Regions from separate parts of the Homo sapiens genome. Here region 2 is linked to region 1. The links come from fine-mapping of genetic effects on gene expression. A gene starts in region 1. The other region holds a variant in brackets. All regions are shown on one strand. Distances are between the middles of the regions. Region 1 holds the start of SYNGR2 (synaptogyrin 2). Region 2 holds the start of TMC6 (transmembrane channel like 6).

Region 1 (5,000 bases):
TAGGGCAGGGACCTCCCGGGGGAGCCTCCACACTATGGAGGGGAGGACTTGGAAGCCGGGCCGGGAGCCACCTCCAAAGTCCCCCACACTCGGGCCTTGGCAGGGTGGGCCACAGCAGACAGCCTAGGGGACAAAAGGGGCAGAGGCAAAGCCCATCTGCTCGGGTGTGCTGCAGGTCCACTCAGCTTCTAGCTACCCCAGGCAGGGCTGGTGCCATTCAAGCACGGAAAAACACTAGCTGAAAACCCTTTCCTAAAAATGCCCTGGAGGAGTGAGCTGCTCCCTGCCCCTCCCAGAGAGGCCGAGACCCTCCCAGCTGCGGAACCCTAGAGTTAATGCCTCCCCCAAGATCAAATGGAGGTGCCACAGGCAGATACCTGAGAAGAGCAGGTCACCAATGACCAGGTACTTGCGGTCAGTGGCGTTGCTGATCTGGGGGAAATACGCGTCGACCACCAAGAAGAAGGCCGAGGCCAGGAAGGCCAGCACCCCGATGGCACTGCCATAGCGGCAGGCATCCTCGTTGCGGTTGAACACGCAGTACATCTGCTTAGACTCGTGGGCATTGCTGTAGCCCTCACCATAGATGCAGGAGAACACGATCAAGGCGAAGACCTGCCGGGAGGGGAGGACCTGGTAGGGCTGGTGGCCGCCTGAGGGGCACACACAGCGGGGACCCTGATGGGGTGTACAGATGCTGGCCTCTCCCACTACTGCTGTCCCCTTTTGGGTTTTTGTTGTTGTTTGAGATGGAGTCTTGCTCTTGTTGCCCAGGCTGGAGTGCAATAGTGCGATCTCGGCTCACTGCATCCTCTGCCTCCTGGGTTCAAGCAATTCTGCCTCAGCCTCCCTAGTAGCTGGGATTACAGGTGCCCTCCACCACACCCGTATTTTTAGTAGAGATAGGGTTTCACCATGTTGGCCAGGCTGGTCTGGAACTCCTGACCTCAGGTGATCCACCCTCCTCGGCCTCCCAAAGTGCTGGGATTACAGGCATGAGCCACCTCGCCCAGCCTGCTGTCCCCTTTTGGAGGCTGACATCTTAGCCCCTCCAAACTTGTGGAGGTGAGCTGATGAGCAAAGTGCTTCCTGATGCACCCCAGGATGAGAATCTGCAGGCACCAGGGGGCCTGCCCCTGGGAATCCTGGACCGGGGAGGGGTGGGGAATGGGCAGGGACCTCCTAGGCAGGGGCTGCTCCTGCCCCATCGGCCTGCTGCAGGAATCATTCTGCTTAGGTACCTGATGGATGAAGGGCAGTCCTTCCATCCCCAGCCCAACCTCACCTTGAAAGAGGTTTAACCAAGACAGGCCAAGTCACAAAGACTACCCATCCCCCGTCACCTTCAGCCCAAGTCACTTCTACAGCACCCAGCCTCTGCCTGAACACCTTGGTGAAGGTGGACAGGCCCTCTTGGGAAGGCCATGCTGGCGCCCCTGTGTCTTCACCTCCTGGAACCCCTGGAACCCTCCCTGGTTCAGCCTGGCCAGCTGTCTCCACACAAGGACTTGCAGCCTCTGTGGCATCCTGGTCCCTCCCAGTCTGTCTCCCACCCCACAGAGGGCCCTGCATGCACAGGGCACTACAAGGGGACTAACTCAGGCCTGTGGATACAGCTCTGAACTCAGACACCTGGAGGACCCAGGGTGGATGTAGGGGAGCTCCAGCCCCTTGGGAAGAGCCCCATACCACCTCCCTAAACTTGAAGGCCACCACCCACGCCTGCTCCACCTCAGCAGGTGTGGGACAGGTCTGTGAGCATCAGGATCCCTCTGGGATGGCCCCAGGACTCTCCCCTGCCAGTCCTGCCCTGTTGTCCCAGGGAGCTCTCCATAGGGCTCTGGAGCTGGCAGTCACAGGCCCCGCCCCCAGATGGAGATGAAGCCGGATCTCCGGGATGATGGGAGCAGGGTGCCCATCCAGGACTCCTGGCACTGCCATCCCGACCCACTGGGCACCTGATTCTTGGACACAGCCCAGGACAGAGGCGATCAGATCCCACAGCCTGGCTGGGAGCTGGTGTGGGCGCCCTGGAGGACCTCAGAAGCTCCAGGCCCAGGCATGGTCTGGGCACAGCAGGCCCACCTCTGCCTGCCCCCTCATGCCACCCCCTCCAGCTTTCAGGGCTGGCTGTCCAAGAACAGGCCCCCTCCCCGCCACACACACACACACACAAAACCTGGTTTTGGAGGTATTGCCCACCTTACAGGGAGGGGGTACATCTTGGGGTCCCTCAACTTCGGGTGGGAAGGCGGACCCGTGGCCTGCCCCGAGTGGGAAGGACACCCTGTTTCCGGGCGTTGGGTCGCCCCCCGCCCCCTCCCTTACCCCACGTGGCTTCGGAAAACCCCGTCCCGGTGAACTCCCCAATCTGGGAGTCGCGGCGTGCGGGCCACCTGTCCGGGAGCCGCCCCCAAACTCCTCCCACTGCCAGCGAGGCAGGGGCCCGCTCCCTGCGGAGATCCGGACACCCCGCGTCGGGGCGCGAGGCTGGGGGTGGGGTGGGTGGCGGGACCCGGGACCGGGAGGGGACAGCGGGACAGACTGTGGAGGGCGGGAAGGCGGGGCCCGGGACGCTGGACGCCGGCCCCGCTCGCCGCCAGGCCCCGGACGCGGCCGCCGCCACCTGTCGCGCTCGTGGGCTAGGGGCCCCGCCGGGCCTGGCGACGGAGAGGGGGTCCCCAGGGTGCCCTCGGCCCGCCCTCCCCGGGCTCACCAAGCACACGGCGCGCGCCACCACCTGCGGCTGCGTCAGGAAGCGCCGCAGGTCGAAGGAGCCGCCCGCCTTGGCCGCGCCGTAGGCCCCGCTCTCCATGTCGCCGTCGCCGCCGCTGCCGCCGCCGCGGAACGCAGAGGAACCTGCCCGGCGCCCCGCCCGACTCCACCCGCCGGGGGCGTGGCCAGGCGCCGCTAGGGACCGAGGGCAAAGTGCGGCCCTCGCGAGCGGCGGGCGAGCCGCGGGACTGCGCTTCTAGAGGCGGGGAGGGGCTGTGGCCGCGGAGCACCCGGGTCCACCCCACCTCGGGGTTGAGGGGCTAGTCTCCGGGCCACGCCGGCCGCAGCACGGACCAGAAAGGGTCAGAGAGTCCCCCGGGAAGACGGACGAACTGAGGACCGCTCACCCTCTTTGCCCCTGCCCTCCCACCGCCTCCTCTAGGAAGCCCACCACCTACCAAGAACCCACCCAGGCTCATAAGCAACCCCTCCCCCATCCCACTGAAAAACCCAGGCCACACCCTGGAGCCCCTCCCTGCCTGGCCTGCCACTCTTTCCTCCTCTCTGGGGCTAAGCCTGGGGTAGGGTCAAAGACCCCCTCCCCATTCCTCCTGGTCTGGGCAGAGCCCCAAGGCTGTGAAGGGCAGTGTGGCGTCACACTTAAGATGGTGTGCAAGGCCGGGAGCGGTGGCTCACACCTGTAATCCCAGCACTTTGGGAGGCCGAGGCGGTTGGATCACCTGAGGTCAGGAGTTCGAGACCAGCCTGACCAACATGGAGAAACCCCGTCTCTACTAAAAATACAAAAATTAGCCTGGTGTGGTGGTGCATGCCTGTAATCCCAGCTACTCGGGAGGCTGAGGCAGGAGAATCGCTTGAACCTGGGAGGTGGAGGTTGCGGTGAGCCGAGATTGTGCCATTGCACTCCAGCCTGGGCAACAAGAGCAAAACTCTGTGTCAAAAAAAAAAAAAAAAAAAAAAAAAAAGATGGTGTGCAAGGCCGGGCGCAGTGGCTCACACCTGTAATCCCAGCACTTTGGGAGGCCGAGGCGGTTGGATCACCTGAGGTCAGGAGTTTGAGACCAGCCTGGCCAACATGGTGAAACCCCGTCTCTACTAAAAATACAACAACAACAAAAAAATTAGCTGGGCGTTGTGGTAAGCGCCTGTAATCCCAGCTACTTGGGAGGCTGAGGCAGGATAATTGCTTGAAACCGGTAGGCAGAGGTGGCCGTGTGCTGAGATCGAGCCACTACACCCCAGCCTGGGCAACAGAGCAAGAGTCCATCTCAAAACAAACAAAACAAACAAACAAACAAACAAACAAACAAAACCAAAAACGAAAGTTAGCGAGGCGTGGTGGCAGCTACTAGCAGTCCCAGCTATTCCAGAGGCTGAGGTGGGAGAATTGTCTGAGCCCAGGAGGCGGAGTTTGCAGTGAACCAAGATCACGCCTTTGCACCCCAGCCTGGGTGACAGAGTAAGACCACATATCGGCCGGGCGTGGTGGCTCACGCCTGTAATTCCAGCACTTTGGGAGGCTGAAGCAGGCGGATCACGAGGTCAGGAGATCGAGAACACCCTGGCCAACATGGTGAAACCCCGTCTCCACTAAAAATACAAAAATTAGCTGGGCATGGTGGCGCGTGCCTGTAGTCCCAGCTACTTGGCAGGCTGAGGCAGGAGAATCGCTTGAACCCGGGAGGCGGAGGTTGCAGTGAGCCGAGATTGCACCATTGCGACAGAGCGAGACTCCATCTCAAAAAAAAAAAAAAAGAAAAGACCACATATAAAAAAATATATATATGGCATGCAAACAGAAATGAAGTTTTCAGGGCGACAGGCAGATGGCAAAGTTTAATCCAGTTCCAGTTCAGCCCCCTCTCGCCTCCGTCCCTCTCTACCTCCATCCCAAGAAAAACCGGTACAGAGGGTCTGGTGCAGGGTAGGCTGGGGCAGGCTCTGTGTGTGTTGGAGTGGGGAGCGGAGGTTGTACAGACAGAGGTGTGGGATCACAGGCTGACTGAACCCGGAAGAATTCCAGACCCCCCTTTGCTAGTTGCAGGTGCAGATTAACAACAGCAGGTGTGCCAGGTGGGGCTCACAGTCAACCCAGGTGAGCTGGACCACGTGAGAGTTGAACCATAGGACTGGGCCACCAGGAGGTGGGGTGCCTCTCCAGGGAAGAGGGGAGCAGGTGGGGGGGAGGGGCTGGGCCTTTTCGCAGTGTGCCCCCCTCCCTCTCCCTACACCCAGAGAGATGTGACAGCACCTGAGAGGCGAGG
Region 2 (5,492 bases), 41 kb after region 1:
GATGGTGGGCTCCCCAGAACCTGGCTGCTGGGTTTCCAGATACTCTTGGTGTTACTGCTGTACTTCCAGCCCCTGTCATTGGCGTTATGGTTGTGCCAAGACCCAGGCCTAGCACCTGGCCGGTAGTAAGTGCTCAGGAATTGGCTCCATTCATGCTCTCCCAGGCTAGATGTTTAAGACATATCTTTGCCAATTCTCTGTCCTTGGGCCCCTGGGAAGCCCGCAGCCCTTCCTCTCTGCTCCCTCTCTACCTGCTATAGGGCCCAGTCATCTCAGGTCTGAATGTTCATAGCTTTTCTGCCTCTCTGCCCACCTCCTTCCTGGTTTCCAGAGTCCTTTCTGTGTGTCAGGCGCAAGCTATGTGCTGGTGCTGGGCACACAGTGGGCTGGGGTAGGAGGGGGCACAGAACCACAGATGTACATGTCAATAGGAAGTGGTAGGTGCTCCACCAGGGTTCAATCTGGGGAGGCTCCCCAGAGGAGGTGGCATTCATGCAAATTCAGTGTGGGTATGCAGGGAGGGGGAAGCAGTGGGAGGAGAGGCAGGGGCTGGGTCTCCATGCCAGGGTGCCACTTGCCAAGAACCAGCTTGGGGTAGCCATCTGAGGACCACACTGGCAGCTCCAAAAGGCCCCAGCCTTGACCCCTGCCTGGTCCTCGCTTTTGCTTGCCTGCTCTCCCCTGCAGCAGTGCCCTCTCCTGCCCTCCTGGGCCCCAGCTCACATTCACCCTGCCTGCTTCATGGCTTCTCCCCGCCAGGAATGACCCTCCCTTCCAAATGGGCTTGGGGTGGGGGGTACAATCTCAAAGGCAGTTTCCTCCATAGAGTTCCCAGGTGGACCACTAAGTCTCCTGCTTTGGCTGGGGGCACCCTAAAGGGTGATTAACTTCTCTCAGCCTCAGTTTCCTCATCTGTGAAATGGGAATATCAGTGCATACCTTCCTGGCTCATGGGGAATAACAGAAAACAGGGCAACGGGTACAGCACCTGGGGACAGTCACCTAAGTGTCAGCGTGTCCTCCTTTTCATCCCCTCCTCTCCACACAGCACACAGGAAGTGAGCCAGAACTCTTGCTAGATAAACAATGAACCCCGCCCAGGTGTCAGGAGTGGGAGATAACCAGGCTCCCCCCGCCGGGGTCGGGGAGAGTCAGCAGGAGGCTTGCGGGGGCGGCGGGGGGGGGGGCGCTGCCCAATCTGGAGTGAGATACTCTGTGTCCCTGGGGCTTTCGGCGGCATCTTACTTGGACGATCCCTAACCATGGGAAGCAGATGAGTCTGGAAATATTGCCCCTTTTTGGAACTTGGGGAAACTGAGCGTCAGAAAAATTGGGGACTTCAACCAGGGGCTGGAATGAATCCAGCCCAGCTCAGACCTCAGGAGGAGGGGTCGGAAGTTGGCAGGGGAGGAAGGCATAGTCGCCGCGGGGCGCCCGGAGGAGGGCGGGGGCGCCGCGGGCCGGGCCGGGTCACGTGATAGCCGAGGCCCGCCCCCCCCCCCCCCGCCCACGTGGGCCGGGAGGTGCGGCTACTCCCCCGGCCCCGGCAGACCTGCGACTGGCCCAGTCGCCCCTGGGGCCCTTTGCCACTCCCTTGGCAAGGAGAGCCGAGACCTCAGTTCCCGGCGGCTCTTGCGGGGCACAGGTGAGCCCTGGCTGCGCGCGCGGCCCCTCCTCCCCGGCGCCTCCCAGGTGAGCGGCCGCGATCCCGGTCCCGGGTCCCGCCAGCCCCAGCTGCTTCTCCTATGCGGGGACAGCGGCAATCCCCCCTGAATTCCTTTCGGCCTCTGGGGCCATTTGGCAGCCGAGTTCCCTCCCCGGGTGCTCCTGGAGCTCCCAGGGCTTGACCCTCCGGCTCGGACAGAGCTGGGAGCGGCAGGGGCGGGGAGGACAGTGCGGGGAGCAAAATCCGCAGCCCCCACCCAGGTCCCCCAGCCGAGCGCCAGGGCACGGGGAGGGGAGGGGAGGGGGTGTGGCCGGGATGGGAAGGGGCGGGGGACAGGGAGGCCGGCTGGACGGGTTCGGTGGCCCCAGAGTTGCAGCCGCTCTGGGCTCTGGGGCCAGGTTGCGGTTCTCCCTGGGTAGCGGCTGCTCCCGGGAAGCTCGCTGCCGGCTGGGGTGGGGGTTCCTGGAAACGGGCGCCACCCAGCCTCTCCCCACCTAGCTCAGGAATGGTGCGCCTGGAAACTCCGCTGGACTTGCCTGGGCCTCGGGGCGGAGTGCTGGGGCGCTGGGTGCCCGAGTCCCCGGGTTCCCTGAGCTTAGAAGGGCCTGTCTGGAGGAAGGGATTCCAGCTCTAGGGACTGGGTGGGGCGTCCTCAGCCCCTCTTTCGGCAGCTGTCCCGTGTTAGGCTGGGTGGGGCCGCCTCGGACCCAGCTCTGGGCTGGTTTTCCCACGTCTTTGCTCCTGCTGGAGGGAGGGGGTGGTGTGGGGCCTGGGCCCGAAGATGGCACCCAGGACACTGAGGGAGGGCGCCGTCCGGTCCTGTGACTGGCACCCCTGCAAGGAGCTGCTCTGTCGGGGCGCCCCCGGGCTTTGCCTGTCCGAGGAAAGCGCCCTTCAACCCGGCCGACTTTGAGCCCTGAGTTCCTGAGGGTGAGCGCAGGAGGAGTCCAGGGCAGAGGCCGGCAGGACTCGCTGGTGGCTGGGAGCTGAGTCCTGGCTCCACTCTCACAGATGAACGGGCCCCGAGCCCAGGGCCCCAGACAAGGCTGCTCTGGTTCCAGTTGTGCCGGGTGACGGCAGAGCCAGGACAAAGGAGGCCTGTTGAGGTCCTGGCCACCCCCAGCCGGCCGCCCTGGGATGATGGAATGCAGGGCAGTGGGTCTTCTGAGAACATGAGGACCTTGGCGCCCTGACGGCGGTGGCATGGAGTGACCTCTGTGTGTGGGGGAGGAGCCCCCTGTGCTGCTTCCGCCTG[G/C]GGCTGGTTGGGGGTGAGGGCTCCAGCAGCTAATTTCCTGCTAGAGGAAGTTCTTTGAGGTCACAGGGCAGACGCAGAGAAGGCCTACAGCCTACTCTGACCTTTCTCTCCAAAAAGGAGGTGTCTCTGTGCCAGAACCCTGGGCATGGAGATCCTGAAAGGGGCTGTGTCTACAGGCACCCTACCTCTTCCCCATTTCCCAGGGACTGGCGACATCGAGGAAACAGATGTGGAACTGCAGACCCCACACCCTTCCTTCCTCTCTCCCCTCCCCTGACACTGGAGGGGGCCCCCCATTCCATTCTGGCATGAGGCTTATTCGGTGCCTCACCATTTATGTACCTGGGGTGATAGGGGGGTGGGCGGGACTGTCTGGGCTGTGAGTGGCACCTCCTGTGGTTCCCCCAGGAATGGGTGGTGTGGACAGCTGCCAGGCGTTGAAGACCACCCCTGGCTCTGTGCCCCTGTCTCATCAGATGGGGGCTCCGGAGGTGGCGCCCAGGCTCTGAGCTACCCTAGGTCTGCAGACTAGCGGGCATTGGCCAGAGACATGGCCCAGCCACTGGCCTTCATCCTCGATGTCCCTGAGACCCCAGGGGACCAGGGGTAAGCGCTCTGGGGCTGGGGGCTGGAGGCTGGAATGTTCCACCCCCCACGGAGAGGTCACCTGAGCAGGGGCTGCTGGAAGGAGAGAGGTGGCTGGAGCCTGACCCCCCCGCCAACCCCCTCTGCAGCCAGGGCCCCAGCCCCTATGATGAAAGCGAAGTGCACGACTCCTTCCAGCAGCTCATCCAGGAGCAGAGCCAGTGCACGGCCCAGGAGGGGCTGGAGCTGCAGCAGAGAGAGCGGGAGGTGACAGGTGAGCTCAGGCCTGGATGCTGGGTGGTGTGGACCAAGACTTGGGTGCCCCAGCCCCTCAGGACGGGCCTCCCAGCTCTGCAGGCCTGGGATGGGGTGGGAGATACTGTGGCCAATGGCATCTCCAGGACCCCTGGTGAGTCTTTCTTGCTTTGTAGGAAGTAGCCAGCAGACACTCTGGCGGCCCGAGGGCACCCAGAGCACGGCCACACTCCGCATCCTGGCCAGCATGCCCAGCCGCACCATTGGTGAGTGGGACCCTCAGCCTCGGCCTCGGCCCCGGCCCCGAGTTGACCCCAGTCCCTGGGGCTGGGCTGGGCTTCCTGCCAGGCATCTCCCTGGGTAGTGGCTGCTCCCGTAGCTCAGAGCCAGGCCCAGGGCGGGCTCCTAGCCCATCCCATCTGCTGCCTGGGGGCCCAGCACAGCCCCATGTGGCCCTCGCTGGGCTCCAAAAATGACTCCAGAGTCATCACGGGGTAAAAATAGGCTTTCGGAATGCAGTGGTGCCTGAAGTCTTTGTTGAAAGGATTTTCCTGGGTCCTGGGAAGGGGTGAGGGACGCAGAGGCCTGTGGTGAGCCCATCCTGAGGGGAGGGAGGCCTGGCCCTGCCCGGCCCGGCCCTGCCCAGCTGCCTCCATAGGCCGCAGCCGAGGTGCCATCATCTCCCAGTACTACAACCGCACGGTGCAGCTTCGGTGCAGGAGCAGCCGGCCCCTGCTCGGGAACTTTGTCCGCTCCGCCTGGCCCAGCCTCCGCCTGTACGACCTGGAGCTGGACCCCACGGCCCTGGAGGAGGAGGGTGAGTGAGTGGGCACTGGAGCCCCAGTGGCGGACACCGGCCTGGGGTGGGGTGCAAGAGGCCAGCCTGGCCTGGGCGGTGGCTGGGGTGCTGCAGAGCCAGAGGCCCCTCTCCTATCCCTTAGCAGGCTGCCTGAAGGCCCCCCCGTCCCTCTGCAGGGACCCACGGGGACAGGGAAGTGGGGGTCTTACCTCACAAGCGCCTTGGAGTGCTTGGAGGGCTGTGGCCCTGGGCCCCGAGTCGGGGACCGTGCGTGGGAAACAGGCCCCTGTGCTCTGTGAGCTTCCTGCTTGTCGCTGACTGAAGCAAACACACGGCTGATTGGCGACTGAAGCTCAAATAAGGGCACCGAGGTGTCTCGGGACGGTGCCGCAGGGACACACAGGCCTGACCAGGGTCCCGGCTTCGGGCTGCAGGGAGGGGCACTTGGGGATGGGCAGGACCTCCCTCTCCCTCTCGCAGAGAAGCAGAGCCTCCTGGTGAAGGAGCTCCAGAGCCTGGCAGTGGCACAGCGGGACCACATGCTTCGCGGGATGCCCTTAAGCCTGGCTGAGAAACGCAGCCTGCGGTGAGCAGCCCCGACCCTGACCATGCCGCCGCTGCTGCGCCCCCAGACCCACTTCCTCAGCTGGGCTAGGTGGTGGGGGAGAAGGGGCTGAGCCCGTGGGTGGCCGGTCTCCAGGAAGGAGAGAGTCAGGCCCCTCATTGGTCCAGGCACCTATGGCTGCCTCTGTCCCCAGAGAGAAGAGCAGGACCCCGAGGGGGAAGTGGAGGGGCCAGCCGGGCAGCGGCGGGGTCTGCTCCTGCTGTGGCCGGCTCAGATATGCCTGCGTGCTGGTATGGGCCCCTGGTCTGCCCTGGGGCTGGGGCGGCTGGGCAGGGCTGGGGTGGCCTCAGTGCCTCCTCCGGCCTCA

Evidence for each region.
Region 2: its variant is fine-mapped to the expression of SYNGR2 in whole blood (TOPMed, PIP above 0.99). The same link has a PIP of 0.9 or more in T cells.

Annotation. Positions count from the first base shown.
Region 1 is chr17:78,166,432-78,171,431 of GRCh38, reverse strand. SYNGR2 (synaptogyrin 2) reads right to left here and starts at 2,851. Exons shown (of 4, transcript NM_004710.7): 1 at 2,717-2,851; 2 at 378-615. The coding sequence starts at 2,815. RefSeq lists silencers at 2,389-2,548, 2,579-3,188.
Region 2 is chr17:78,124,812-78,130,303 of GRCh38, reverse strand. It overlaps TMC6 (transmembrane channel like 6), which reads left to right and starts at 1,549. Exons shown (of 20, transcript NM_001127198.5): 1 at 1,549-1,692; 2 at 3,398-3,527; 3 at 3,656-3,780; 4 at 3,938-4,027; 5 at 4,420-4,578; 6 at 5,041-5,146; 7 at 5,319-5,415. The coding sequence starts at 3,472. RefSeq lists silencers at 1,456-1,985, 3,256-3,335, 3,386-3,435, 5,266-5,492 and an enhancer at 2,666-2,915. The variant G/C (reference allele first, on the strand shown) is at 2,922.